Linked DNA regions of Homo sapiens: region 1 is linked to region 2. Evidence: fine-mapped expression QTL. A gene starts in region 2. The other region holds a variant in brackets. All regions are shown on one strand. Distances are between the middles of the regions.

What was found.
Region 1: its variant is fine-mapped to the expression of PPP6R1 in thyroid (GTEx, PIP 0.95).

The regions. Positions count from the first base shown.
Region 1 is chr19:55,220,905-55,232,100 of GRCh38, reverse strand. TMEM86B (transmembrane protein 86B) reads left to right here and starts at 3,338. Exons shown (of 3, transcript NM_173804.5): 1 at 3,338-3,410; 2 at 3,664-3,910; 3 at 4,538-5,463. The coding sequence starts at 3,360. The coding sequence ends at 4,920. PPP6R1 (protein phosphatase 6 regulatory subunit 1) reads left to right here. Exons shown (of 24, transcript NM_014931.4): 18 at 1-26; 19 at 119-299; 20 at 433-503; 21 at 610-691; 22 at 1,217-1,327; 23 at 1,417-1,488; 24 at 1,570-2,322. The coding sequence ends at 1,573. MIR6804 (microRNA 6804) reads left to right here and starts at 1,149; the gene lies at 1,149-1,216. The variant C/T (reference allele first, on the strand shown) is at 3,780.
Region 2 is chr19:55,252,777-55,263,972 of GRCh38, reverse strand. It overlaps PPP6R1 (protein phosphatase 6 regulatory subunit 1), which reads left to right and starts at 4,956. Exons shown (of 24, transcript NM_014931.4): 1 at 4,956-5,538. It overlaps HSPBP1 (HSPA (Hsp70) binding protein 1), which reads left to right. Exons shown (of 8, transcript NM_012267.5): 8 at 1,291-1,750. The coding sequence ends at 1,365. RefSeq lists enhancers at 4,319-4,368, 4,449-4,498, 4,529-4,728, 4,734-5,708, 8,816-8,865 and 4 more and silencers at 4,558-4,852, 4,759-5,038, 5,169-5,268, 5,439-5,498, 6,683-6,876.

The DNA of each region.
Region 1 (11,196 bases), 32 kb after region 2:
CCCCAGCCCTGGCCCTCAGCCTCCAGGTGAATGAATGGGCGGTGTGGTCAGGTGTACACAGGGCTGTCTGCCTGCTACTGAGTTCACCCTCCATCCCGCTCCCCCACCTCTATCCCAGGCCCCAGCTGGACAGCCACCTTTGACCCAGTGCCTACAGATGCCCCGACCAGCCCCCGAGTCTCCGGGGAGGAAGAGCTGCACACTGGGCCTCCAGCCCCACAGGGGCCCCTCAGTGTGCCCCAGGGCCTCCCCACTCAGAGCCTGGCCAGCCCTCCTGCCCGTGACGCCCTGCAGCTCAGGTGAGAACCGGATGGAACGGGCTAAATGGTGCTGGTATCCCGAGGCCAGGAGGTGGCCATGGGGTCCCCGTCCTCTCATAGGCTCGAGTGCTAACCCTAGCTGCCCCCTTGGGCTGCCTCTCTCGCCTACCAGGTCTCAGGACCCCACACCCCCCTCAGCACCTCAGGAAGCCACAGAAGGCAGCAAAGTCACGGAGCCCTCAGGTGAGCCCCGCTTTGCCCTGCCCACCCGCGGCCCTGGGCAGAGAGAGCAGCCTGGCCAGCTCCGAGCTTGCTGGGAGCTGCAGCTGAGATCTCTTATCCCCCACAGCCCCTTGCCAGGCCTTGGTTAGCATCGGGGACCTTCAGGCCACCTTCCACGGGATCCGTTCTGCCCCCAGCTCCTCGGACAGGTGAGCAGCGAGGTGGGGCTGCCTAGTATCGGGAGAAGTCTTTTCTCCTCTTCGCTGAGGTGGGCTCTGGGTTCATCTTGTCCCTGAGCTGCTCCAGGCCTCCTTTGCAGGACCCCCAGGCGCAGCCTCATGTTGTGCCCCAGCCCCTTGCACTCTGTAGGCTGGTTCTTCTCTTAGTAGCCTGGGATGCTTGGGGCCCTTGAGCCCCAGGGTTGGGAAGGGCTCGTTGGAGGGTGTGAAGGATTGGGAGGGTGAGAGCATGCAGAAGACCCTTTGGGGCTGTCTCAGCCGGCCTCGAGTACCTCCTCCACAGGGACAGGAGGCGGGAAGAGGGGTGCTTGTCTTCCTGTCCAGGGCTGTGCTGTCCCTCCACGCTGAGCCAGCTGCGTCCTCGGGAGGCCCCTCCCCGTGGGGCAGGTGGCAGACACACACCCAGTGAGCCGACTTCAGTCGGGTGGGATGTGAGGGTGTCAGCAGGTGACGGTGGGGGCCACGCTGACAGCCGCACCTGCCTCTCACCCACAGTGCAACCAGAGACCCCTCTACCTCTGTCCCAGCCTCCGGGGCCCACCAGCCCCCCCAGACCACAGAAGGGGAGAAGAGCCCAGAGCCCTTGGGGCTTCCCCAAAGCCAGAGGTGAGCACCAGGGCAGCAGGGCGGGGGGGTGGGGGTGGGGCTGGTGGGGCAGGAAGTGACCTCTGCACATCCCCTCTCTCCCCTGACAGTGCCCAGGCCCTCACGCCTCCTCCGATACCCAATGGCTCTGCCCCGGAAGGGCCTGCATCCCCAGGCTCCCAGTGAGTGTGGCTGCAGCCTCGGGCTGGGTAGGTGGGGCTGGGCCTGCTAGACCCTCACACGACATCTCCCTCTGTTTCCAGATAGCTGCCTGGTGCGGCAGCGGCGGCCAAATCTTCCGTCCTCCCGTGGATCTCCCGGGGTGGGGGCAGGGCGGGTCCCACGATGGCCCCCATTGCCCTCATCACCCTGACACCCCCACATTCTCTCCTCTGGACCCCCAGGAGGCTGGTGCCAGGGAGACAGGCCCAACCCACCCCCATTTGCACTGAGAAGAGAAGTTTTGGAGCGTTGCCTCCTAGAATAAAGATACAGAGAGTCAAATAGAGAGAATGGAGAGAGAGAAACATATATTATATATTATATAGAGAGAGGGAGGAGAGCGAGAGAGAGTGAGGACACCGAACTGGGCTGGCGGCTCCAAAGCACAGCCTTCCCTGTTCCGTCCCAGCGGGAGCTGGTGTTAGGGGTCCCAAGGTTGCCACCCACGTGCCCAGCTGTCCCACGCTGCAGCGCAGACGGCCACGCCCACACCCGGCCTTTTAGCTCAGGTCCACCATGGGGGACGGCCCAGCGTGGGTGGGGGTGCCAGAGGGTCCCGAGTGGGGGCCGTGCCTTTGCCCAGACCCTGCACTTTCAACCAGGCCAGTCCGGCTCTGGGGAGCAGGGGCCTCCCCGGCAACAGCCCCAGGGGCCTTGAGGGTCTGAGGTCCCAGCCCTGTTGCCAAGTGACCTTGTCCCCAGCTCCCTCCTCCCAGGCTGGTGTGAGTGTGCGTGCGTTTGTGCCGAGCTTCTATTTCATATTGCAAATATAAATAAAGGAAGGCAGTTTACGATTCTGCTGGTCAGACCTTACGTTCTGGGATGCGGGGTGGGGAGCCTGTATTATCCCTGCACCCCAGAGGCTGGGGGTGCTCCTGACCCAGTCTGCCCCCACACTGTCCTGCCAGAGGGAGCCCTGTGGCTGCAGAGGCCCCAGGCTGGGCCAGGCACTGGCTGTGAGGGCTCCTGCCAGGTCTACCCCACCTGTGGGCAGGGCCTTGGGCAGAGGATAGAAGCCACCGACAGGCTCAAATCCCTGCTCCTGCCCCTGCTTACCCCCAGTAACCAAGCCCAGCATTGAGGCTGGGTACTGGCGCCCAGTAGGTCTGAGTCTTTCAGGTAGAAGGTAGAAGTGTAGGCTGCGTGTGCAGCGAGTGGCACCGGTGAGCGGCGCTGGGAAACCGGAGCGTGTGGACCGGGCCATGAGGACAGCGTCCTCACTGGGGTGGCAGTTGGCTTGGAGGTCACCTGGGGGCTCGCTCAGCTAACAGGAGAGGGTGCTTGTTCCCCGCATTCGTGGTGGTCCCTCCTGGTCACCCATTGAAGCAGTGTTTGTGGTGGAGCCCCTGAGGGCTTGGTGGGGTTGAGCAGAATGAGGAAAGGTTTCATGGAGCAGGGAGGGAGACGGCTAGGGCAGCAAGTGAAGGACAGACTCGCCTTCCCATCCCTCCAGGGGCACTCCTGCCAGCCAGCCCCTCTCCCGCTTCCCATGATGGGGTGGCTGTTGGAATTCTGCACCCCATCTCTTCTGATTGTTGGGGCCCAGGACAAGGGGACAGGCATTTGTGGGCCTAACCTCCCCAGGCAGATAGGAGGAGGAAGCCATGTCCCAGCAGGCTAGGGCAGAGGGACCCCCAGTGCCAACAGTGCTTTATCAGCGGGCGCCAGGCAGGGCCATCCCCAGGGTGAGGACAACATCTCCCTGGGCCCTGTTATCAGTCACAGAGTCCACAGGACGCTCCTTGGGTTAACGTGTAACCATGAGCCCTCCCCTCCACCCCCTGAAGCCACTCGCTCCCAGATTAGGTCGCTCTGGGGCTATCAGGCCAGCATGGACGCTGGCAAAGCGGGGCAGACCCTGAAGACTCACTGCTCAGCCCAGGTGAGAGCCTTCTGAGCTGTGCCTGGGGCTGGGGGGACAGGGCCCTGGAACCCCAGCAGCCGGCGGGTCTGGGAGCTGCTGTCCTTGAGTTGGTTGGGCCCTGGGAAGCTGGGTTCTGGCAGCCTGGTCCCTGAATGGGTCCAGCCTGTACAGCTGGGGTCCCAGGTGGGGGTGGGACAGGAGCCATGAGATCTGAGTCCCAAGAATGGGGGCTGGGCTGGGTTTCGGCTCAGTAGCTCCCCACTCCCCAAAGCGCCCAGATGTCTGCAGGTGGCTGAGCCCCTTCATCCTCTCCTGCTGCGTGTACTTCTGCCTCTGGATTCCCGAGGACCAGCTGTCCTGGTTCGCTGCCCTGGTCAAGTGCCTGCC[C/T]GTCCTCTGCCTGGCTGGGTTCCTGTGGGTCATGTCCCCAAGCGGGGGCTACACCCAGCTCCTCCAGGGAGCCCTTGTGTGCTCGGCTGTGGGGGACGCTTGCCTCATCTGGCCGGCAGCCTTCGTCCCTGGTGAGTGGAAGGTGCTGTGACGCTTTCCAGATGCCCGTGTGAGAGAGGCCCCAGCACTTGGATGGGAGCCTGGGTGCAGAGGGCTCCTGTGAGAGCTCCAGTGGTCAAAGGCACAGTGGGGGGCGCAGCCGTGACCGAGGCAGCTCACGCTCCAGCGAGGGGTGGGGGCAGGCGGTGTTAGGGCAGTAGCTGAGGTGGCGCAGAGGGCAGTGAGGACCTGCTGGAGGTACTGCAGTTTGAAGCAGGGTTGCTGAGGAAGGCCTCACTGAGGAAGTCACATTTGGGCAGAGCTGAAGGGCTGTATGCCTGTGTGGAGGAAGGGCGAGTGTAAAGGCTCCGGGGCAGGGACGTGTCAGGTGCTTGTAGCCCAGCAGGCCAGGGTGGCTGGCGCAGAGTGGCTGGAGAGCTGGAGGCCATGGGGCTTTGGAGGCCAAGGGAAGGTGGGGCCTCCTGGCAGTTCTGAGCAGAGCAAGGATGGACACTGCATGTGGGGAGACCTGCAAGGAGGCTCGGCCAGGGTGGGGCCTGGTGCTCTGGGATGGTCCTTCTCTTAGGCCCTGAGGGGTGACCTCGGGGCCATTCCCAGGATGGGCCTTCCTCACTGGTACCCCACCCCTCTCCCGCCAGGCATGGCCGCCTTTGCCACCGCCCACCTCCTCTACGTCTGGGCCTTCGGCTTCTCTCCCCTGCAGCCCGGCCTGCTGCTGCTCATCATCCTGGCCCCTGGCCCCTACCTCAGCCTTGTGCTCCAGCACCTCGAGCCGGATATGGTCCTGCCGGTGGCAGCCTATGGGCTGATCCTGATGGCCATGCTGTGGCGCGGCCTGGCCCAGGGCGGGAGTGCCGGCTGGGGCGCGCTGCTCTTCACGCTCTCTGATGGCGTGCTGGCCTGGGACACCTTCGCCCAGCCCCTGCCCCATGCCCACCTGGTGATCATGACCACCTACTATGCTGCCCAGCTCCTCATCACACTGTCAGCCCTCAGGAGCCCGGTGCCCAAGACTGACTGACTAGGGAGCTTGAAGGGCCGGTGTTCAGGCCCTCTCCTCCTGCAAGGACCTGGGCCTCCCAGCCCAGCCCAGCCTGAGAAATACCCTCAGCAGCGAAGCTTCCTGACGCCTGTCTGCAGGCGCCGCTGCCGCCGTCGCTTCTGGCTGAAGACGTTTGAGGACGATTTGCGGAATTCCAAGTCCACTACTGGGTTCCAGCTGCCTTCCCCCGGTTCTGACTCCAGATCCCTGGCTCCTCAGCCAGGCCCACATGGAGCCCTCCCAGCCACCAGCCTGCCTCCATGTTCACTGTCGGCCCCACAGCCTGCCCGCCCCCTGCTGCTGCTCTGAATCCGTTTTCCCTGTGGGTGTGGAACCGTAGATGTTGCTGTTACCGTAGGAGAGGCCTCGGGGAGGGTCATGATTGTGATAAACCATCGCGGTTAATGACAGCAGAAGGTTCTTTGTCGCTCCCCATGGACCAGGCCTGGTGCCCAGTGGGACCCTCCATGGCCCTCTGGTGGGGGGATTCGGGGGGATAAAGTGAGGATTGTGCAGAACTGAGCCAAGAGGACTGTTTGGTCTTTGTGTTAGTTTCCTGAGGCTGCTGTCACAAATTACCCCAAGCCAGATGCTTTGAAACAAGATGAATGGACTCTCCTGCAGTTCTGGAGACCCAAAGTCCAAAATCCGGGTGTTTTCCGGCCCATGGTCCCTCTTGAGGCTCCAGGGAAGAATCCGTCCTTGCCCTCTCGGCTTCTGGAGGCTCCCGGGAATCCCTGGCTTCCATCGGCCTGTGGCTGTGTCTCTCCGTCTTCATGTGACTGTCTTCAACTGGCAGCCTCCCTCTGTGTCCGCATCCTTCTAGGGACACAGGTCATTGGATTTAGGGCCCACCCTAAACCCAGGGTGATTCTATCTCAAGATCCTTAAGTATGTCTGCAAAGCCCCTATTTCCAAGTAGTGTCACCTGCAGAGGTATCTGGGGTTAGGACTTGGACATATCTTTCTAGGGGATACAACCCGCTGCAGTCACATGCAGTATCGGGAGAAGGGTGGGAGGCTTGAGGATGAGGGGTCTTGGAGGAGGGAGGGCGGCAAGGGGGTAGGAATCAAATGGGAAGGAGGAACCCAGCTGTGCTCCTTGTCAAGGCTGTGTGACCTCGGCAAGCTGCTATCCCTCAGGTCCTCAGATTCTGCATCTGAAGACTTGACAGGGTCCAAGCTGCTCTCCAAGACCCTATTTGACTTCTGCATCCATGATGTGCTTTCAGTGACTCATAGCAGAGGGGCGACTTCTCCATCCATGGTTAGCATTTAGAGACTCTTACAGCAGAGAGGCGACCTCTCTATCCATGACCTGCATTTAGGGACTCTTAGAGCAGAGGTGACTTCTCCATCCATGACCTGCATTTAGGGACTCTTACGACAGAGAGGGGACTTCTCCATCCATGGCCAGCATTTAGGGACTCTTACAGCAGAGAGGTGACTTCTCCATCCATGACCTGCATTTAGGGACTCAGATGTGAGAGTACAGAGGTGGGAAGGGAAGGTGGGGAGCCTGGAGGACGGGGACCAGGAAGGAAAGTGAGGACAGGAATCCACAGTTGGAGTGAGGAGAAGTGGAAGCTGAGGGATTTCCTTGAGGAAGGGTCAGGCATGAGGAGGATCTGAAGGATTGGACTCAGGTTCGAAACCTCCACTTCCTCCTCATCTCCTACCCTCTCCACTCAGACCTGGCGAAAGGTGGGGAAAGAGGAAATTGCGCAGTGAAGTGTAGCAGGAGGGACGGGGGTCTGGGTGTGCAGATTCCAGGGGCACGTGGGGCCTGCAGACATGAGGGGTTCCTGGAGGTGAGGGAGGAGGGGCTGGAACCTGGACTCCTGGGTCTGAGGGAGGAGGGGCTGGGGCCCTGGACTTCTGAGTCTGAGGGAGGAGGGACTGGGGCCTGGACCCCTGAGTCTGAGGGAGGAGCTGGGGGCCTGGACTCCTGAGTCTGAGGGAGGAGGGGCTGGGCCTGGACTCCTGAGTCTGAGGGAGGAGGGGCTGGGCCTGGACTCCTGAGTCTGAGGGAGGAGGGGCTGGGGGTCTGGACTCCTGGGTCTGAGGGAGGAGGGGCTGGGGGTCTGGACTCCTGAGTCTGAGGGAGGAGGGGCTGGGGACCTGGACTTCTGGGTCTGGGGGAGGAGGGGCTGGGGGCCTGGGTCTGAGGGAGGAGGGGCTGGGGGCCTGGACTCCTGCGTCTGAGGGAGGAGGGGCTGGGGTCTGGACTCCTGAGTCTGAGGGAGGAGGGCCTGGGGGCCCGAACTCCTGGGTCTGGGAGAGGAGGGGCTGGACTCCTGAGTCTGTGGGAGGAGGGGCTGGGGGCCTGGACTCTTGAGTCTGAGGGAGGAGGGGCTGGGCCCATAATCCCTGGTGTTTGGGGAACATTCTGGCTTTTGGTCCCTGGGCTCTGTGGGGTCGGCAGTCCAGAGCGACGGGACGCTGCTCTCCTGTCGGCATCCAGCAGCCCCAGCGTCGTGTCCCTCCTCCCTGATTCTGGTCCCCCGACGACCTTTCATCTGACTTCTCAGAGGTCTGCTTTCTCATGATCTGATTCGTGTTTCTCTAAAGCGGGACTCTCGGAGGTGCTGCGCACATCCCTCTCAGGCTCCTTCCAGCCCTGCCGGGACCCAGACCTGGGGCAAGGGGCAAAACGCCGGCTCCATCTTCCCTCCCAAGCCGGGGTGGCTGGTGGGGATGAGGCGGGGTGGGACTCAGCAGCCTTCATCCCGATCCTGCAGGTCAGACCACCGTGGGTCTGATTCCCCATCTGGGCCCTCCCCAGGCCCTCGGGACCACGACAGAGGCCACAGCAGCAGGTTAGTGACCCCATCAGCCTCCATCCTGCACGTCTAGGAAGGGCCGTGGGATTCCGTCTTCTGTTTGCCGCAGAGGCTTCTACCCATGTCAGCCGCCAAAGCAGACAGAATCGTGAGTGTGGAGGCTCGGACCTCCAGCTCCATCACCCTGAGCTGGGCAGCCCCAAGGGCCCAGACCGGCAGACTTCCATCTACTGGGTCCAGGGGCATGGCCAGCGGGAACACAAGCACGTCACACTGCTGGCTCGTGGTGGAGGGCTTCAGCCTGGGACCCTCTACACCACCTCTGTGTGGGCCAAGAAGAAAGGAGTAGGTGGCCCCAGGGACGTCCTGAGCATGTCTACAGGTAAGAGGGGCCACCTTTCCACTGCCCAGCAACATGTGCGTGTGTGTGCACGTGCACTTGTGTGTGCATGTGTGTTTGCGTGTGTGTGCGCGTGCGTGCGTGTGCACATTTGTAAAAAGTGCCAGGCTGTGCACTTTATTCTCATTAGAGCCACAAACAAACTTTATCAAATGACTCTCTCCTTTCCACATTCCCAAACTAGTCCCTGGCCTGGTCACACCGGCTCAGACCACCAGCTCCCTCACCCTGAGGGCCCCGCAGGCCCAGACTCCAAGACCTGCCCCTACTGGCTCTGCTGGGCCAGTGACTCCTCAGACATCAGGGTGCCTGTGGAGGGCCTGGCTGCAGGGACGCAGTACCCCAGCATGTGGGCCCAGAAGCATGAGGTCAACAGCCCCAGCCAGACGCTCACAGAGGCCACGGGCGAGGGGTGAGAGCACTCTGGGCTTGGGGAGTAGGAGGCCTCAGGAGGCCTCTGGCATCGGCCCCACTGATAGGGTGCATCCTTCCAGAGCAAGCAGGGCTGTGGGAAGGAGGGGATGCTTCCCTTTGCTCTGGAGGCCCAGGGACTATGGGGTGTGGTCTGTGAAGCAGGTTCACTGTGCACTGGTTACCAACTTGCCAGAGTGATGAGACAGAACGCCACACGCAAAAAGTTACATGAAGTGGGCTTGTTTCTCACAGATGGGCAGCAAGGGACAGCAGAATCCCAGGGTCCGTTGTAAGCTGGTCCCCCAAGGCTTAGGAAAGTGGCCTAGGGAGGATAGGGTCACAACTGTGTGTGCCTCACTTGTATGGCAGCTGAGGGACCCCAAAAAGTACCCAGCCCTGGGTTTTCTACTCTGGGGGAAACCTGAGTCACCGGGCTCAAGCATTGAAGGGCATCCTGTTTCTAGGGCAGGCAGGAATGGAGCCCAGGCCGCCTGGCCAGTCCCTCCATATCTCCGGATGTTGCATTCCCAGCACATTCTACTGTTACTCTTGAGAACTACAAGTAAGAGACAACTGGGTCTGTTTAAGGCCACTCAGATAACCTTCCTGCAGGAACCCTGACCCCCTTCCCTTCCTTTCCTTACCCGGCCAGGTCATGGATCTGAGGATACAGGCTCAGACCCTGAGTTCTGTTACACTAAGGTGTATATCCCCCCGGGGCCCAGACCCCCACACCTACACCTACTGGGTCCAGTGGGCAGGGACCACGGCCCCCAGTGGGACCAGAAGTGTGGCAGAGATGGGGTTGTGGTGGAGGCCCTGGAATCTGGGGCTTCATAAACCTTCATTGTGTGGGCTGAAAGGCGAGGTGGCTCATGCCTGAAATCCCTGCACTTTGGGAGGCTGAGGCGGGTGGATCACCTGAGGTCAGGAGCTCGAGACCAGCCTGGCCAATACGATGAAACCCTGTCTCTACCAAAAATACAAGAAAATTACCTGGGCGTGGTGGTGCATGCCTGTAATCCTAGCTACTCAGGAGGCTGAGGCAGGAGAATCACTTGAACCCGGGAGGTGGAGGTTGCAGTGAGTCAGGATCGCACCACTGTGCTCCAGCCTGGGCGACGAGCAAAATTCCATCTCAAAAAATAAATAGTCGGTCACGGTGGCTCACGCCTGTAATCCCAGCACTTTGGGAGGCCAAGGCAGGCAGATCATGAGGTCAGGAGTTCAAAACCAGCCTGGACAACATGGTGAAACCCTGTCTCTACTAAAAATACAAAAATCAGGCATGGTGGCACATGACTGTAATCCCAGCTACTCGGGAGCCTGAGGCAGGAGAATCGCTTGAATTCGGGAAGTGGAGGTTGCAGTGAGCCTAGATCGTGCCATTGCACTCTAGCCTGGGTGACAGAGTGAGACTCTGTCTCAAAATAAATAGCCTGGTGTGGTGGCTCACGCCTGTAATCCCAGCACTTTGGGAGGCCGAGGCAAGCAGATCACCTGAGGTTGGGAGTTCGAGACCAGCCTGACCAACAACATGGAGAAACCCCGTCTCTACTAAAAATACAAAACTAGCCGGGTGTGGTGGTGCATGCCTGTAGAATTGCTTGAACCCAGGAGCCGGAGGTTGTGGTGAGCTGAGATCGCACCATTGCACTCCAGCCTGGGCAACAAGAGCGAAACTCCATCTCAAAAATAAAATTAAAAAAAAATAAATTTTCTGCATCTTAGCAGGTTCTCCTGTCTCCCCTCCAGTTTGTACCTCCCTTCCCCAAGAGTGACCAGTCTCCTGATCTTTATCATCGTAAATTAGTGTAGTCTGTCCTTGAAACTTCTCTAAGTGGAATTATACAGTATGTAGTTATTTGATTCTGGCTTTCTTCACTCAACATTGTGGATGAAATGTGGATCCATGCTGGGTGTTTTTATTTTTATTGCTGTGTACTATTTATCGCATGAATGTATTACAACTTATTGTTTCATCCCTCCCTTCATGAACATTTTATGTTTCTAGTTTTGGGATACTATGAATGAAGCTACCATGAACATTTCTGTCCATGTCTTTTGGAGCACACAGGAAGTTTTTTCCCTCAGATGTCTGCCTAGCAGTGGAATCGCTGAGTGATGGTATACGTACCTTAGGCTTTCGTAGTTACTGACAAACCATTTCTCAAAGCAGCTTACCAGTTTACCATCCTGCCAGCAATGTGAGGAAGCTTCATTTGCCCCATATTCTTGCAGATAGTTGGTTGTTCGTCTTTTCCATTTTAGTTCTTCTGCTGCAGTGTTCTGGTGCTTCCTTGTGGTTTAATTTCCATAATGACTAATGAAGTTGAACACATTCCCATTTGTGTGTATGTGTGTGTGTTTGTGGCCATTTGGATATTCTTGGTAAAGTGTCTCTTCAAGTCCATTGCCCATTAAATGGGTCTTCTGCCTTCCTTAATTTGTAGAAAGTCTTTGAAAATATAAAGGGTACAGCTCTTTTGTCAGATGTTTGTGTCACCAAGTGTCATCATGGCCTAGTTTTAACTCAGGGCTCTGCTAAATCACATGGGATCACAGGTGTAGAAGGGTTTGCTTTCCGAGAGGACTGCAGAGATTTCCCCCACTCCCCTGCTCCAGCCTTCCCTTCTCTCATAGAAACAAATGTAGGGA
Region 2 (11,196 bases):
AAAAAGTGTACTACATGAGAAGTTTTGACTTATGTATACACCCGTGGAAACATTCAAATTAGATTTGTAACAGATTTTACTAATGCTTTGTGAATAGGTTCCGTAGTCACATGGTTGAAAATACAAGACCCGCAGGAGGGTAAACAGTGAAAAGTCTCTCTCCTGCCCCTCCTTCTGGCTACCCAGTTGCTCAGGTGTCCTTCTTAAAATATTAGGTACACACGAGCAAAGGTGCATGTGAATTCTCCTTTTTCTCTATGTTATGCAAAATAAGCCTGCCGTGCTGTGATGGCTGTTCTGCCCCTTGCTTTGTGGGCATTGCATGTCTCGCCTGTGGCTCTTTCATTTTGCAGCTGTACAGTGCGGATGGGCTCTTTTTTGTAGCATGGATATGCAGGTTGTTTCTACACTCTCGCTATGACAAACACTGCTGAAAGAATAACCTTTTGTATATGTTATTACATATGTCTGTAGAACAATTTCTAGAAGGGAAATGGCTGGGGTCAGGTATGTTAAAGGTGAAGGTTAAAGGGTTAAGGGCCGTTTCATTAGCTATCACCAAGCTGCTCTCCATAGAAGTTCAACCATTGACACTCCAGTCATGAGGGTGCCCAACTCCCCAAATCTTGGTCAGGACAAAGTGGCCTCGATGAACCATTTGACCTTTTTTCAAACTGATTGTTGAAAAGTAGTACTCCAGTCCAGTTTACATTTCTCCCATGAGTGAAATTTGGCATCTTTTCTCTTTCTTGTGAACTGTTCGTTCTCATCCTTTGCCCACTTATCTATTTATTGGGTGATGGTTTTTGCGAATGACTTTTTTAAGCTCTTTAAGAGTTAAGTATATTAGCCATTTGTGCTATGAATCACAAATATTTTTCTCCAACCTCGTTTTCTTTTTCTTTTTTTGCCATGGGAGTATTTTTTATATTACGTAGTTTAACCTCTCAGTGCTTTCTTTCATGGTTTCTGGGGTTTGTATCCGCAGAAAGTTTTGAGCAGTGGTCCATATCTGGGAGTTAGAAAGAGCCCAAGAGTGCTGATATGAGGCAGACCAATGGAGTGAGACGAGTCTGGGGGACCCCGGGTTCTAGTTCAAGTAGTTCAGACACCAGTGTGAAGACAGTGAATCATGGATCTGAGCAGTGATTAAAAAAGCCTAACCTCTGGTGGGGGGGAGTGGGTGGTGGCCAGGAGAGAAGAGGAGTCACCTCTGGGTGCCAAGAATGCTGGAGGCAGGGTCCGGCCTCTGCACTCAGGCCCCTTGCTCCCTGCCCCTGCCCAATCCAGGAGGAGCTGGAGTTCTGTGAAAAGCTGCTACAGACCTGTTTCTCCAGCCCAGCGGACGACAGCATGGATCGGTGAAACCAGGTGGCTTCTTGCCCCCTTCTCCGTGGGAACCCCAGGCCTCTTGCCTCCCTCCCCACCTACAAGGCCCTCTCCCAAGGGATCGCAGGGCCTAGGTGCCTGGACCCAGGGTGTGCCAGCCCGTCTCTGTGCAGTCCCTGGAAGGGGCGCTGAGAAAGGCACCAGCTCCTTGGACCCCACCTCCCATGCTCTCACTCTCATCCCCGTTCTCTTGTCCACACAGCTCTTCCAATAAAGGTGTTTCTCTTCCTCCTTCTCCTCCTTCACTGCCGCCTTTGTCATCTCCTTTGGAGGGTGCATGGGGGACGGGAGGAGGGGCACGGGTTTAAGGGACTTGGGGAGCCACTGGAAGAATAATAAAAGTGTTGCTCTTTATCATCTATAGAGCCATTGTGTCATTTACTCTTCCCTGTCTTTCCTGAGCAACAGTGTGTGGGACATCTGTCCTTTTTTCGGCCACCTGGCAAACCTGAATTCTAGGTTTGAGGAATTTCCCAGGTTAGACATCTAAATTTTCCCTAGGGTAGCCGCCATTTCCCTTCCCAGCATCCTTTGCTGTAGGGTAATCATGTGACATTAGCTCCACAAATCAGAACTCTCTCTGGGAATCTGTTTTGTACACCAATCAGAACCCGCTGGTGGTCTAGCTCCTCTACCAATCAGAGCCCGCCGGTCGTCGGGCCAAGAGTTGGCGGTGGAGGGGCCCCTGCCCAGGTTCCCTTCTGGCTAGTGCAGGAGCAGCCACACCTGGCTTCTGGACAGGGCTGGCAGAGATTCTGGCGGGAGTGTCTGAGCCAGGTGCCGTTGATGGAGGCTGCACTGTGTCTCAGGAGCAGGCCTGTGGCTGGGTGTGGGCTTCATTCCTGACTGCAAAGCGCCAAGCGGATTCTGTAGCTTTCTCAGAGACGTGGGATTGGGGCGGGAGGTGGGGGTGTCGGAGGCTGCCTCAATTCCTTTAATAAATTCCTTTTCTGTTTAGCTACAAGAAATTTTGTCATTTGTAGACAAGAGCTTTGAAAGCTGTTGTTTTTCCAGAGAGGAGGCTGAGCTCAGAGGAGGCTGACCCCTGACCAAGTTCACAGCCAGGATTCACAGCTGGACTAATTCCAGAGCGATCCTCCTCTTTCTTTTTCTTTTTCTTTCTTTTTTTTTTCTTTTGAGACGGGAGTCTCACTCTGTTGCCCAGGCTGGAGTGCAGTGGCCCGATCTTGGCTCACTGCAGCCTCCACCCTCCGAGTTCAAGAGATTCTCCTGCCTCAGCCTCCCAAGTAGCTGGGATTACAGGCGCCTGCCACCGCGCCCGGCTAATTTTTGTATTTGTAGTAGAGACCAGGTTTCACCATCTTGGCCAGGCTGGTCTTGAACTCTTGACAGGGTGATCCACCCTCCTCGGCCTCCCAAAGTGCTGGGATTACAGGTGTGAGCCACTATGCCCGGCCAATCCTCCTCTTTCTTGTATCCTGGTTTCCTAGGACAATTTGATGTCAGACTCATTCCTTTTGTGTGGATTGTTCTGGTGGATCTGGGATTTTTGAGTCTATTTGGATTGGTTTTTATCACTCCTCTTCCTAAATCCAGGATAAATTGAGAGGTAGCTGCAGGATCTGAGATCCTGTCTCAAGAAAAAAGTTCCAGTTGTAGTCCCAGCTACTCGGGAGGCTGAGGCGAGAGGATTGCTTGAGCCCAGGAGTTCGAGGCTGCAGTGATCTGTGATCGTGCCATGCACTCCAGCCTGGTCGACAGAGCCAGACCCTGTCTCTTAAAAAAAAGTTTCAATTCTAATGCAAACACAATGTATATCTGTGAGTTCTGCTGGGTGGAAATCCAGACTTCAGTCATTAAAGCCCCCACAGCTTCCCAGCTTCCATTTGAAGGGTAGGGACTATAGCCACATCCTTATCCCTCAGTTCCTGACCTCTGTGTTAAAACAGTGTGGCAATGATGCCATCATATTGTGGAGAAAACAAGGAAGCCAAATGCTGGGTAAAAGACAAAACATCTCTATAGAAAAAAGAGAAAAGGAAATGCCTCTCTGTGATGGTTCATTTCAGGTGTTGACTGGGCTAAGGGATGTCCAGATAGCTGGTAAAACATTATGGGTGTGTCTATGAGGGTATTTCTGGAAGAGACTAGCATTTGAATCGGTAGACTGAATAAAGATCTTCCCTCCCCAGTGTGAGCTGGCATTATCCAATCCATTGAGGGTCTCAATAGAACAAAGAGGGCAAAGGAGGGGTGAATTTGCTCTTTTTTTTTTTTTTTTTTTTTCTCGAGACGGAGTCTCGCTCTGTCACCCAGGCTGGAGTGCAGTGGCCTGATCTGGGCTCACTGCAACATCCACCTCCCGGGTTCAAGTAATTCTCCTGCCTCAGCCTCCTGAGTAGCTGGGATTACAGGCGCACACCGCCACGTCCGGCTATTTTTTGTATTTTAGTAGACACGTGGTTTCACTGTGTTGCCCAGGCTGGTCTCAAACTCCTGAGCTCAGGCAATCCGCCCACCTCGGCCTCCCAAAGTGCTGGGATTATAGGCGTGGGGTCTTGAACTCCTGAGCTCAAGTACAGGCAGGCGTGAGCCACCACGCTGGGCCCTTTGTTTTTGAGACAGGTTCTCGCTCTGTCTCCTAGGATGGAGTGCAGTGGTGCAATCCGGCTCACTGCAGCCTCGGCTCAAGCGATTCTCCTGCCTTAGCCTCCCGAATAGCTGAGACCACAGGCGCGGGCCACCAGGCCCAACTAATTTTTTAAATTTTCTTTTGTAGAGACGGGGGTCTCCCTAGGTTGCCCAGGCTGGTCTCCAACTCCTGGTCTCATGCCATCCTCCGGCCTCGGGCCTCCTAAAGTGTTGTGATTACAAGCGTAAGCCACCGCGCCCGGCCAATTCGGAGTCTTAAAACAAAAACAAAAACAAAAAAGTTCCTCGCGCCCACACGATTTTTACAGTAGGCCTCTAACATGGGTAGAGAGGGGAGCTATTAAAGTTGGGGAAACCGAGGCTCAAAGCCAGAGGGACCTTCATCAATCTAGACACAAGGTCTAGGAGGTCTCTTTCAGTTGATGCTATTAGAAGCTGCTTTGGGCGGAACTGGCAACACCAGCGACCCGGCCGGGACTATCGCCAGCAGACGGAAACGACTGAGGGCCTCTGAGGCTCGGAGGCGGCTAAGCGCGAGAGCCGGACGGAACGAAGGCGCCTGGCTTTGGCTGGAGCGAAAACCAGGTCTGGATTTCGCAAGAGCCCGACCCTGGAGCCAAAGCTCCACTATGATTAGAGGAGACAGAACAGCGAACGGATTTCCAAACGGAGCGAGTGGGAAGGGAAATCCTGGAGCGGAATATTCACGGGGCCTTGGAACGGAGCCGGTGCGCAGCTGCGGCTCACTGAGCTGTCTGGGTTTATTCCGGGGCAGACCGTTGGCACCAACGGGCGCAAGCGCGTCTGCGGCGGCGGGGTTCAAGAGTGGGCGGTGTCGGGAGCGCCCGGGCGCACGCGCACTGCACCGCCCAGGCGTGCACCCCGCCCCCCGCACCTGCGCACCAACACAGCCGCGGGAGGGCGGGGCCTCCTGCGTCGTCCTGCGCTAGGGGGATTGTGGGATAGTGGCGGAGGGAGCCGGGCGTCGGAGGCCCTGAGGCCGGCCGCAGAGCCCGGAGATTGAGCGGCTTTGGGGAAGGGGTGGTTAAGGAAGTAGGCCTCGGCTTCCGTCGGTCGCTGCTCGGCTCTGCGGCCCGTTTGGACCGCGGAGGAGGTCGCCTTCCCCTCCCGTGGGGCGCTCGGTTGGACTGTGGAAACCGGGGCAACTTCCCCCGTCTTCCCGGCTGAGGCGCCTGCGTGGGCCTCGCGACCCGGCTCGCCAACCCGCCTCGGCCCGCACGCCCACCTCGCCTGCGGACCCCGGAGGTGCCTACGCGGACTAGTGACGCCCCCCGCCCGTCGGCAACTCCACCCGGCGCTGACCCCCTCAACTCTGCAGGACCCGGCGCGCGAGGACCCCACGACCCGCGGGCGCCTGCGCGGACCCCGCGAGCCCCGGCGCCTGCGCGAGTCCCCGACGCCGCCCCCGCCCCCACTCACCGGGCCCCGCAGCAGGGGCCGGAGCCGCCGGCGGCGGGGCGGGGGGGGGCGCCCCGATGAGCCCCGAGTGCGAGGAGCCGCCGCCCCCCCTCGCAGGTGAGCGGCCCGCGTCGCCCGACCCTCTCTCTCCAGGGCCAGGCGCCCACGTCTTCCCCTCTCCGCGTCCCCTCAGGCTTTTCCCTCTCGGGACCCCCGCGGGTCTTTTCTGCTTCGGATCCTTTCCCTCCTTCCTTCGGGTTTCCTCTCCACGGCACCCCGTTTCTTCCCCCTCGACCCTCCCCAGTCTCTTAATCTCTTCACCTCAGCTCCGCCGCCACCCTAGTCTCAGTCTCTTGCTCTCGGCCTTTTCCCACTCGCTCTCTGCAGCTGCGCTCCCCAGTCCCTGAGCCTCAGCTCCGCTCTCTTGCCTCTCTGGCCGGTTCCCCGGCCCCCCAGGAGTCTTTCTCCCTGGTTACCCTGGACTTTGCCTGCTTACACCCTTCCCTCTCGCCCCGATCTCTGCCCCGCCACCTCTTCCGTGGCGCAGCCTCCTTAGATCCCCGGAGCTCAGGACTGGAGGAGCGGGGCTTGTTTTCACCTTGACCGACCCTCTCCCGCCTCCGGCTTCTTGTGCGAGGGACCTGGGAGCGGGGCTTCTCTGGAGCAGCCACCACTCGGGCCTGCTTCAGTGAGATGAAGCCTGCTGAGGGCAGGCAGGGAGCCTGGCGCTGGGCACCGAGGAGGGGGCATCAGCCCTAGGCCCTGCCCTGGAGGTGGGGCCGGTCCCTGGAGGGGGTACAAAGGCAGAGCCGGACAGTCACAATTCCTGCGTGTCGTGATCGAGGTGACTTAGGGAGCTGCAGGGGGCCACAGAGCGGGAGGCACTGGTGAGACTGACTGGACGGACGGCTTTTTCTGTCTAGGAAGGATGAGTAGGAGGTGACAGATGGAGAGTGGGAAGAAGGGCCTTCCGGGGGGGGAAGGAGCAGCACGTGCAGATATGTCAAGGAAGGAAGGTCGGAGTCCTGAGTGCAGATGTATTGGGAGGGTGAGGGGCAGAGTAGTTCCGCCCGGCGTGCTTATCCAGGCCTCGAATGGGACCTCTGGTTGGGGTCTTTCTTGCTCGCTCGTAGTACACACAGACATGACCATAGACACCCGCCTGAAAGGCAAGATGTTTCAGGAAAGGAAGCTGCGTAGACTGTCAGGTGCGGTACTGGGTTCACAGTTGTAGAGAAACTGCAGTGGGATTTCATCCAGCCCAAGGGCGAGGGTCTAACTGTTAGCGTGCGCTGCAAATGCAGCAAGGACTCGAGATTGCCTGGATAACACAGGATGAGGACTTGGTTTACATACATGCACAACACACATGGAGACACGGCGCCCGGCCACGTGTGCTTACTAGTGGTGGGATGGCTGTTGGAGCTGCTTGTGCTGTTGAAAATGTTATGCTTTTTTTTTTTTTTTTTTTTTAACTCTAGTTCTGGGATTGGGATCATGAGAAGGCAGTCCAGCTAATTGTTAGAGGATCTTTTGCCAGACAGACCTAGGCCGAGTCCGGCTTCTGCCAAGCGAGACCTTGGACAAGTTGTTCCTCGTCTGTAAGTGGGGATAGCAGACTGCTCTCCTCAGAGGGTGGATCTAGGGATTAAGTGCAGGGTTTGTAGAAGCCTGTGGCAGAATGCAAGGCACATGACACTCTGCAATCAGTAGCTGTTTTGATGTTGATGATTTTGAGACTGGGTTTTGCTCGTTTGCCCAGCCTTGAACTCCTGGACTCAAGTGATTTTCCCACCTTAGCCTCCTAAGTAGCTAGGACTACAGGCACGTCCTGCAATGCTTGCTCAATTTTTGTGTTTTTGTACCACGCTTGGCTAATGTTTGTATTTTTTGTAAAGACTGGGTCTTGCTCTGGTGCCCTGCTGTGGTGCCCAGGCTGATTTCAAACTCGTGGGTTCAAGCAGTCCTCCTACCTAGCCTCCCAGAGAGCTGGGATTATAGGCATGGACCACCACACCTGGCCGTTCTTTCGATTATTATTTGATTTGGGAATGTCCATTGCAGTGGCTCTCAACTGGGGGCGATTGTGTCCCCTGGGGGACGATTGGCGATATCTGGAGATGTTTTTGGTTGTTACAACTGGGGGGAATGCTGCCAGTATCTGGTGAGTGGAGGTGGAGGCTAGGGATGTTGCTAAGTGTCCTCCAGTGCATGGGCAGCCCCAACACCGAAAAGAACCGTCCAGCCCAAATGTTAGCAGCGCAGAGGAGGAGAACTTTGCTCCACTGCTGGGGTATGGTGTGTCGTTGTGGCTTATTTGCTCTGTTGTGACTCATGAGCTGTGAGTTGGTGAGTTGTGTATTGCGAGTCACCACCATCTTTGTGGCCATTAGCTTTTGTTGGTTCATCTACTGTTTCTTTCCATTAGAGGAGAACCTGCTTGTCTGGTCCCCCTGCCCATTTTTTTTCTTTTGTGGGATGTGTGGCCCAGTGCTCTTAACAGAACACCTTTCTCTGGCTTCAGTTTTCATTAATTCAACAAGTAGCTTTAGTTGGGCCTGGCCTTATGCTAGATCCTGGGAAGTCGGCATGTTTCAGGGGGAGGCAGATGACTGAACAGGTACATCCTGTCACAGAGCCGAGGCTCACATGCTGTTCCAGGGTGACTGCGGGATGCTGTGGAAGCGGCGTGGAGCAGGCCTCTAACACAGATGCGGGGGGGAGGCTCCCTGGAGGAAGTGGTGTCTGTGTGGGGGCCTGAAGGACCCAGGAGGAGCTAGTCAGACTCGAAGAGCTCCGGGAAGGAGGAGGGAGCAGCCCAGCCCCGGCTGAGGGCAGTCAGGTGTGACGCCCACGCGGGAGGTAGCAAGAGATGAGGTGAGAGAGGCCTGAGAGCTTTGGTGAGAGTGAGGGGCCTTGCCAGAGTGGGAATCACTCGGCACCCGGCTTGATGGGGCTCACCTGCCTTTCCATGCCAAACCGTGGTTTTCCCTTTGCACACCAGTTTTGTGGGTCCTTCTCCAGAGAGTGCTGCCTTATAGTAACCCCATCTGTGAGGTATTTCCCGGATAAGGAAACTGGGGCTCGGTGGGGTGAGATCCTTGGTCTAGGCCACAGAGATTTCAGTTTGGGGAGGTCAAATGGGAATGCAAGCTTTTCTGACTTTGGATCACACTGTAACCCTAACTCTGCCCCTTTCTGTTTTTCCAAAGAGCTATTTCAAATCCGTTCATTGGTCTTTTCCTTTCTTTCCTTTAAACCTGTGGCCAGTTCAGGAGACGATTTGAATGTGGATGTTCAAGTCCCCGTCCCAGTCCTTGGCCAGTGTTTCTAGACTCTTCTGTTTCCTAGTTATTCCATCCTCTGGGGTTGGACCAGGGCTGCTAGCTCCCTTGGGAGGGTGTGCTTCTGGGGCCAGAGGGGGAGGCACTGAGGGTTCTCTTTAAGTGGGGACCCTCCCCAAGGCTTTCCCAAGCCACAGGAAAGCCCTAGCTCATCATCTTGTTGGGCCTTGGGCCGCTCCCCCTTCTCCTCTGGCCCCAGTGGCCCTTTCTATCAAATTGGTGTCCCTGGTTCCTCCTTGCTGGGTGGGTGATGCCGGATTCTGCAGCCGGCACACACCGTAGGTCCTGCCCAGAGGTGGTGGGGTTGCCATTACTGTCACTGCATCCCTGGAATTGGGTGTTCCCAGCCCCCTTTCAGATTTGGCTGAGAGCTGACAGAGGCTTGGGGGACATTAGAGGGAGATGGTCTTGCTGTCCTCCGGACTCTGGGCCCTTTAAGGAGCTGGGTGCTGGCCAGCCTGCTGCTGGTAGCAGGCTCTTTCCCTTCCTAGGGTACCGGCCAGGGGGCCAGGCGTTGGAGCTTCTGCTGAGCATTGGGACAGCTCAGGCAGCTGTTTCTGGAGGCCCCCTGAGGCATCTGTGCCCATGACCTCCATTTCTGGGTGCTCGTGGGTCAGCGCAGGTTGGGAAGGGGTGACAGATGAAGCATGGGCCCACCGGTTCCCTGGCGGCAGAGCTGTGCTTGGGCGGATACGTGCAGCAGTGGGGATGGCTCTGTGGGAGCCGCAGTTAGTGCCTGTCCAAGCAGGGGAAGGAAGGGGCTGGCAGGCCCTTGAGGGGTGGCTGGTGTTGAAGGCCCTAAAACACCACAGCTAAGTCAGAAACCAGAGGCAATAGTGCAGAGCTGGTGGAGGGAGAGCGGCAGAGGTAGTTTTCGTTTTTAATGGCTTCCTTTCTCATTTACAATTTCCCCTTCTTCCGTTTGCAGCCAGACTCATGGTTTTCAAACGGTAGCTAAAAACTAGTGGTAGTCACTTCCGCTTTCTTGAAGTTGCTAAAAGTTGCAAAGAATGGGGGTGGCGGGGTGCATGGCGCCTGCCGTAGTATCCGAATGGTCTGAGGAAAAGTACTTGAGTCACTTAGGCAAATGGGTAGAGTCTTTCTCCTGCTCCTCTGTGTTTAGCACCATCACCTTTGGGGTAGTGACCGGTCCCCTACCTGTCCTGCCAGAAAGCATCTGGACGTGGCCTCAGGGTTGGACCGGAAGAGACTTGCACCTGCTGAGCTCCTGCTGTGTCACGGCCACCTGCTTTAGCTCAATGCCTTTTCACAGCAGCCCGCCCTGGTGGGCTGTGTCTCCTTTTCACGGATGAGGAAATGAGACTCAGAGAAATCAAGCGCCTGCCCAGGTTCACCAGGAGAGTGCGAGTGAAACCCACTCTCCTGCTCCATTCGCAGGGATTCTAGCAGGCTTCATTAGGTTGGGAGAGGGGACTGAGAGGGCTTCAGGCCATAGTGCATTCAGAGGTTGTGGTGGGGGAAAGTTTTTTTCTCTTTTTTTCTGTTCTTCCATATTTGCATCTTCATTCTGTTTAGAGCCTGATAATTGAGGTCTGTAGAGTGTCGACCACTCAATTGCATTTGAGCCTTTCAGTCTATTCTGATTTTCAGAGGAGCCACTTGAGATGGAGAGTTCAGGGCGCTGCCTGGGTTCTCAGGGCCGAAGTTCTTGGATGCCGTGCACCAGCGAGCACCCTCCCGTCTCATTCTGGCTGCCCCTGCCCCAGTTGTCTGGGGAGCTCGGTTTGGAGGGGAAGCCTGACCTTTTCCCCGAAGCAGATGGTTAGTCTGTACCAGGGGTAGGGGGTTTGGGGGCCGAGGGCCATGCCTGTGCCCTTTAATCAGGTATCTTAGAAGTGAACGGTGGGCCTCAGTGTGAGAATTTCTGCCTGTTGTTTAGAGACCAGGGCACACTGGAAGCCTCTTGCTAGCCATGTGGCTCCACCCCTCTGGGCCCCTCTTCCACATGAGACTCTGTCGGAATAATAAGAATTCTTTACTTGGTCTTGATGTGGAGCCGAGACAAGTGTCTCTGCAAGTGCGGGTCCATGGATTTTCTACAGATGCTGGCTTGGTGCTGCTCCTATCCCGTCCCCACTGTGGAGGGGCTCACTTAGCTTAGAGCTGTTGGTGGTGAGGGATGGGGAAGGGGTAACCTGGGTGAGTGCCCCAGGGCTGAGCCTTGGCAGCTTCAGCTCTGCCAGGCTGGCCGGCATCTCATCAGCTCTGCGGACGCTGGGACATAGTGCAAGGCCTGAGCCTGGCCCTGGCTCTGTCCCTGCCATGGCCGATGGCCTGAGGCAGGTTTTTTTTTTTCCCCCAACAGTTTTTATTGAGATATTCTGTACAGTTCATCCATTTAGAGTGTACAGCCAGGCGCAGTGGCTCACGCCTGTAAGCCCAGCACTTTGGGAGGCCGAGGCAGGCAGAT